Linked DNA regions of Homo sapiens. The protein of the gene in region 1 interacts with the protein of each later gene in a pairwise test. Each region holds a gene or a part of one and is shown in the gene's direction. Other genes may lie near its edges.

Evidence for each region.
Region 2: the proteins of RMND5B (region 1) and UBE2W interact in a two-hybrid assay, tested with the Homo sapiens proteins (one large-scale study listed by BioGRID and IntAct).

The regions. Positions count from the first base shown.
Region 1 is NC_000005.10:178,137,448-178,141,271, forward strand, and holds part of RMND5B (E3 ubiquitin-protein transferase RMND5B), read left to right. Parts: intron 1-660; 5' UTR 661-672; coding exon 673-811; intron 812-835; exon of another isoform or gene 836-949; intron 950-3,824. UniProt on the Homo sapiens protein: Core component of the CTLH E3 ubiquitin-protein ligase complex that selectively accepts ubiquitin from UBE2H and mediates ubiquitination and subsequent proteasomal degradation of the transcription factor HBP1.
Region 2 is NC_000008.11:73,823,139-73,826,962, reverse strand, and holds part of UBE2W (ubiquitin-conjugating enzyme E2 W), read left to right. Parts: intron 1-1,713; coding exon 1,714-1,816; intron 1,817-3,824. UniProt on the Homo sapiens protein: Accepts ubiquitin from the E1 complex and catalyzes its covalent attachment to other proteins.

The DNA.
Region 1 (3,824 bases):
GAGGCCAAGGTGGAAAGATCGTTTGAGCCCAGGAGTTTGAGACCAGCCAGGGCAACACAGAGAGACCCGTCTCTACGAAAAAAAATTTTAAATTAGACAGGTGTAGAAGCACACTCCTGTGGTCCCAGCTAGTCAGGAGGCTAAAGTGGGAGAATCCCTTGGGCCTGGGGGGATCAAGGTTGCCATGAGCTGAGTTTGTGCCACTGCACTCTAGCCAGGGCAACAGAACAAGAGCCTGTCTCAAAAAAAGAAAATACATACGTGTAATATGACATTATGCAGTATATGGATTTCTAGTTAGATAGTATTGCCAGCTAAGGGCTCTGTGAGGCCTGCTCTCTATTCTGATTTAAAAGGGAGATGAACAAAAATTAAGGCATGAAAAGAGTTGAAAATGGAATAATAATTTTCTCACCATGATTAAGAAAAACCTCGTCCTCACACCAGCCTGCATCCTCCACTGGGCACCCCAGTGGAGTGAGGAGATGGGATGTTATATGCTTACCAAAACATAGGTACATATATACATATATGTACAAAACATATAACATTGATACATGATGTGGGAATGGTGAGAGGGATCTGAAGAGGTGGTCTGGGCACCCTGCCTGCCATGCCACCGTGGCCCAGATGGGGCCTGACCCAGCTGACCCTCCCCAGGCTGAGGCCACCATGGAGCAGTGTGCGTGCGTGGAGAGAGAGCTGGACAAGGTCCTGCAGAAGTTCCTGACCTACGGGCAGCACTGTGAGCGGAGCCTGGAGGAGCTGCTGCACTACGTGGGCCAGCTGCGGGCTGAGCTGGCCAGCGCAGGTGGGTGGCCACCCTTGCAAGTGCCCTGCGACAGCCTCCCTGAGGACATGGGAGACCCGAAGCTACTGAGTGACAGGGTTCCGGAAGGACGATGATGAGGATGTTGGTACCTGCATCTGTAGGCCTCCTTGAAACCGGGTAATGACAGTCTCTGAGCTACTTCAAAAAGCCCAACAAATTATTAATTTACCTGAGATGATTCCCATTTACATTTTGTTTTCAACTTACTTTTCTATTTTTAACTTTTTTTCATTTTATAATTGTGTGTGTGTGTGTGTGTGTGTGTGTGTAGAAACAGTGTCTTTGTTGCCTAGGCTGGTCTTTAACTCCTAGGGGCTCAAGTGATCCTCCTGCCTCAGCCTCCCAAAGTGCTGGAATTATATGCGTGAGCCACCATGCCTGGCCTATTTTTAGCTTTTAAGATTTTAAAGATAATTTCAAATTTACAGACCAATTCCAAGAATAGTATAAAGAACTGATATATACCCTTTACTTGGATTCACCAACTGCTCATATGTTGCCATATTTGCCGTGATCATTACTTTTTAACCATTTGAAAATAAGTTGTAGATAACATAGCCCCAAGCCTTCAGTGTGTATGTCCTAAAATCAAGGGCATTCTCTTACATAAAAACAGCGTAGTTATTAAAACCCAGAAATTGCCAGGCACAGTGGCTCACGCCTGTAATCCCAGCACTTCGGGAGCCCGAGGCCGACAGATCACCTGAGATCAGGAGTTTAAAACCAGCCTGGCCAACATGGCAAAACCCTGTCTCTACTAAAAATACAAAAATTAGCTGGGCATGGTGGTGGGCTGCAGTGAGCCGAGGTCACGCCACTGCACTCCAACCTGGGCAACAGAGCAAGACTCGTCTCAAAAAACAAAATAAATAAATCAATCCAAGAAATGAAACATTGATATAATATTACCTAATAACTATAGTTCACATTTCTTTTTTTTTTTTTGAGATGGAGTCTTACTGTTGCTCAGGCTGGAGTGCAGTGGCGTGATCTTGGCTCAACTGCAACCTCCACCTCCCGGGTTCAAGCAATTCTCGTGCCTCAGCTTCCCGAGTAGCTGGAATTAAAGGCGCATGCCACCACCTGCAGCTAATTTTTGTATTTTTTAGTACAGGTGGGGTTTTGACATGTTGGCTAGGCTGGTCTCGAACTCCTGACCTCAAGTGATCTGCCTGCCTCGGTCTCCCAAAGTGCTAGGATTATAGGTGTGAGCCACCATACCCAGCCAGTGTAGTCAACATTTCAATTTTGCCATTGTCCCAGGAATTTTTTTTTTTTTTTGATATAGAGTTTTGCTCTCATTGCCCAGGCTGGAGTGCAATGGCGCAATCTCGGTTCACTGCAACCTCCGCCTCCCAGGTTCAAGAGATTCTCCTGCTTCAGCCTCGCAAGTTGCTGGGTTTACAGGCCCGTACCACCATGCCTGGCTAATTTTTTTTTTTTTTTTTTTGGATTTTTAGTAGAGACAGGGTTTTGCCATGTTGGCCAGGCTGGTCTCGAACTCCCGATCTCAGGTGATCCACCTGCCTCAGCCTCCCAAAGTGCTGGGATTACAGGTGTGAGCCACCATGCCCGGCTGTTCAGGAATTTTCATAAAGCATTTTAATTTCCAGTCCAAGAACCAATCCAAGATCACACACTGCATTTAGTTTCTCCTGTCTAATCTTTACTTTTTTTAATCTGAGACATTTCTTCTGTCTTCCTTTATCTTCCATGACATTGGTATTTTTGAAGCATTAAGGCCAATTATTTTGCAGAACGTCTCTCAATTTGGAGTTGTCTGATGTTTTCTCATTACTTAGGTTTTGCATTTTTGGCAGTACTTCAGAAGTGATTTGTTTCTCAGTGCATCACACTGGAAGACACAAGATGTTGCTTTATTGCATTATTGCTGTTGTTCACTTTTATTTTGGAGACAAGTTCTCACTTTGTTGCCCAGGCTGCAGTGCAGTGGCACGATCTTGGCTCACTGCAGGCTTGACCTCCTGGGCTCAAGTGATCCTACCACCTCAGCCTCAGAAGTAGCTGGGACCACAGCAGTACACTACCAGGCCCTGCTAATTTTTTTTTTTTTTTATTGTAGAGACAGGGTCTCCCTATGCTGTCCAAGACGGTGTCGAACTCCTGGGTTCAAGTGATCCTCCCGTGTCAGCCTCCCAAAGTGCTGGGATTATGATCCGCTGCACCTGGCCTGATCTTCACTTTGATCACTTAGTTAAGATGGTCGCTGCTAAGGTTTTCCACTGTAAACTTCCTAATTTTTCTTTGTAATCACTAAGTAGTTTGTGGGCTGTAATCCTAGCACTTTGGGAGGCTGAGGCGGGCGGATCACTCGAGCCCAGGAGGTTGAGACCAGGCTGGTCAACATGGCAAAACCACATCTCTACTAAAAATACAAAAATTAGCCGGGCATGGTGGCACATGCCTGTAGTCCCAGCTACTTGGGAGGCTGAGGCATGAGAATCGCTTGAACCCAGGAGGTGGAGGTTGCAGCGAGCCAAGATCGCGCCACTGCATTCCAGCATGGGTGACAAAGCGAGACTGTCTCAAAAAAAAAAAAAAAGTAGTTTGTGGGGAGATACTTTGATACCATATAAATGTCCTGCTCTTTACCAAATTTCAGCCTACTAGTTTTAGTATCCATTAATGATTGTTGTGTGAATTATTACTAAGCTGTCTGCAACATGGTGATTTTTCCTGCTTTGTCATTCTTTATACATTTATTAGTTGACATTCAACTGAAAAGAAGCTTTCCCTTCTCCTTTCATTATTATCACTTCACACTCATATTCTTATTTTATTCAATAGGTTATAATCCATTGCAGTTATTTAATGTTCAAATTGTCTTAGGTCTGACCAGAGGGAGTCCCTGGTTCCTATGTCTTTTTTAAAAATTGAGCTATAATTCACTTACCATTAAACTCACTCTTTTAAAGTACTCTGTCCAGGTGCAGTGGCTCATGCCTGTAATCCCAGCACTTTGGGAGGCTGA
Region 2 (3,824 bases), on another chromosome or scaffold:
TTCGAAGATTAAGAAGGACCTAATATATAAAGAGATAGTTTTTTGTTTTGTATGCAGCTTTTGCATTGCATTTAATTTACCATGTATTGACTGAGTCAGGAATGTGCTAGGTTTTTTACGTATGTAGGGTCATTTATCTTTCCAACAACACTATGAGGTGATTATCTTCTGTTTTATTATTGAGGTAGTTAAAACTGGAGAGATAACATAACTTGTTCACACAATGAGTTAAGATTAACTATAACTGCGACTTCAGTATAACTTCAGTTATAACTGTCTAATTTCACTATAAAATATTGTCTCTTGGGTCTGTGGTCGTATCTTTTATTACCATGTATGGTACTCAGCGTGCATTCTTAAAATGAATAGCCATGCTCTTAAGAGTCTGTATACTGTAGCTGATTTCTTTTAGAGAATAGGTACATTTATTATTTTACATAATCCAAGGTTCATAGTATGCGTGGTGATGACTAGAATCCCAACACTGTATTTTCTATCTTCCTTTTGTTTTCTTGTATTTTAAATACAAGAAAGTTTAATAACTGAAAAGTTCAAGAGAATTGCCCAGGTGTACAAGAATTATAAGTGACAGAGCTATAATTAGGAACACATTGTTAATGACTTCAATTCACTTTTGCTTCTAATGCTGCCCTGTTATCTTTGCTGTCATTATCCCTTATTCTTCCCATCTTAAAGAAAATAACAAGAATAGTATATAAACTGTAAATAACACATTTATGTTTATGATTGTTATATATGAAAACAAAGGCTTGCATAGATGGCATAGAAATGGGCTTTATTAAACAATTGAAACATAGTGAGAGATAAAGGAAAGTCACCACAAAGCCTTGCTTAATCATCAGAGTAAGTGGACTGATGTCAATTTAGCTCCCCTTGCCCTGTTAATCTTCTCTAGGATGTTGATGAAAAAAATAAGTCTGACAGCTACGGTTCTCTGTGGTCATTGTCTATACGTATTTCTCCATGGCTTCCACCAGTAATAATCAGAGGCAGTTGCTTTGTTTGATGTTATGTATAGAATACGTAATATCAGCATTGTAGAAATGGTACTTTGAAAAAATAAGGTAGTATAAATCAATTAGGAGGAGCACAGGCTTTGGTGTCAGTGCACCTTAGTTTGAGGTCTGTTTGTTTGTTTATTTTGAGACAGTCTTGCCCTGTAGCCCAGGCTGGAGTGCAGTGGCATGATCTTGGCTCACTGCAACCTCTGCCTCCCGGGTTCAAGCGATTCTCCTGCCTCAGCCTCCTGAGTAGCTGGGATTACAGGTGCACACCACCATGCCCGGCTAATTTTTGTATTTTTAGTAGAGACCGGTTTCACCATGTTGGTCAGGCTGGTCTTAAACTCCTGACCTCGTGATCTGCCTGTCTTGGCCTCCCAAAGTTCTGGGATTACAGGTGTGAGCCACCACACCCGGCCTTGGGTTTTATTTAGTTTGCTTTTTTAGACCTGGCTCTGTCTTTTGCTAGCTGTCTGACCTTGATCTGGTTATTTCACCGCTGAGTGTCAGAGAAGGGGATAGGTCATGAGAATTAACAGTAAGAGAGTTATTGGGAGGCTGGCATGTGCTGTTACACATAACCAACTCTTGTCCTAGTGCTTAGTGTATAGGAAGTACTTGGTGTCCTCTTTTCTCCTCCTTACCCCAGTCTCTATTATCTTAAGTTTTTAATTTGCCTTTTCTATTCTAGGTGGATTGTAGACATGGAAGGTGCACCAGGTACCTTATATGAAGGGGAAAAATTTCAACTTCTATTTAAATTTAGTAGTCGATATCCTTTTGACTCTCCTCAGGTAATTGCCTTGCTTTAAATTTTTTTTTTTGTATTTTTAGATAGCTAAATGCCAGAGATGTTTGACTCAGTAAAAACATATAAATCAGTTATACGTATGTAGATGGATTTGTTATTTCATTATCTTATTTGTCATATAATCAAGATATGAACATTACACTTTATTGGGATTAGGGCTTTACTGCATTTTGCTTCTAAAATTGTTTCATTTGTTGCTTATCCATAAATGCTAACAGAAAAGGGAATAGAAATCTAACCAGGCCTCTAGGCCAGGGGTCCCCAACCCCCATGCTGTGGACTAGTACTGGTCCATGGCCTGTTAGGAGTCGGGCCACACAGGAGGTGAGCAGCATTACTGCCTGAGCTCTGCCTCCTGTCAGATCAGCGATGGCATTAGATTCTCATAGGAGTACGAGCCTTATTGTGAACTGCACATGTGAGGGATCTAGATAGCACGCTCTTTATGAGAATCTAATGCCTGATGATCTGAGATGGAACAGTTCCATCCCAAAACCATCATCCAATCCCCAACCCCATCCATGGAAAAATTGTCTTCCATCACACCGGTCCCTTGTGTCAAAAAGATTGGGGACCACTGCTCTAGGCCATCGGAGAAGTTGACATTTTGGAATAACTGGAGGCACTTCTCCTAGGTCAGATGGTAGAATCACATGGTGAAGAGAAAAGTTCTCTGTTGGAAGGAGTACTATGATTTTGCATTGACATGCTGTCCTTGCAGCCTTTTAGTACAGGAAGGGCAGAGTACATCATCAGATGTTAAATATCTAAACATCAGCACAAAGTCTGATTATTATAATTTGATGCCCAGTGAGTTTAGTTAATAGCTTAATACTTAGACAAGGGATAATGGTGGTAGAGAAATGTTTTTTGAGAGCTATTTAACTATAGTAAATGATTAATCAGGTTAGAGAAAGGAAGACTCTAGGATGACTTCCAGGTTTCTGGCTTGGTAAGATAAGTAAATGAGTTACTATAATTACTTATTCTTCAGAGAATTATAACAAAGCACTTCATTTTTAAAATTTGAGGCTTGTGAGATCCGTTGGCTAAAATGGTAAGACATGATGCCAGCTCTCTCTAGTATTGCTAGCAAATGAGCTATTCTGGAAAATACAACCAAATACCTGAAATATTTCCCAGATACTGAAAATTTTGCTTGTTGGGTGCTGAAATGTACTATTTGGAGGAAAATCATATTTCATTGTCACTTTAAACAATATACCAAACACAGCTTAATCTTTTCTTAGTTATGTAAGAGAAGAGATAAAGTCAGTTATTGTATCATGCTATAAGTAAAGAGATAATTGTTTTAAAGCATAGATTTAAATGGATACTGACTCCTTAAGTTCTAAAATTTTCATATGAGCAGAAAACTACCAAGACTTTTAGGACTTATTTTTATCATTTTCATAAAAGTTAAAGTGAAAGGGTATGTGCTATTGTGACCTCTAGATGTCTACAATAAGCATTTGTAGACTATAATAAAAAGAACAAACATCTTCTCTCCAGAAGATTGTCATCACTTTTGTTGCTTTCTGGCTGGCCAGCATCATTTCTGACTGTAAATGTGTGGAGACAACAGGATCTCAGTCTGTTTTCATCATCAGCCTATTTGTCTACCTTCAACTAAGTTCAATGATGGTATGGGAAGGAAGAATATTTCACACCAATTCAAAAGCTTTTGACTAGGGAGATATTGGGGGAAGGCTTACTCTGGGAGCTTACAGATTTTTCACCAGAGGAAAATAATATTTCTGTAAGCATGAAACCAAGTCAAAAATGTGTTCTCTAAACTCTTTCCTTAATATTTAATTCTAAATCAAATATCAAACTTAAACATTATGTTGAATTTCTTCTTTAATATTTCTGTAAGTTACAGCATTTGTAATAAATTCTCCCTATTGTCCTATTTCAAATTCATTTTATCCTCCTTCCCTGATTTTATTTGTCTGTTCTTCTAACATTGGTGTTATCCAGGTTCTTTATTC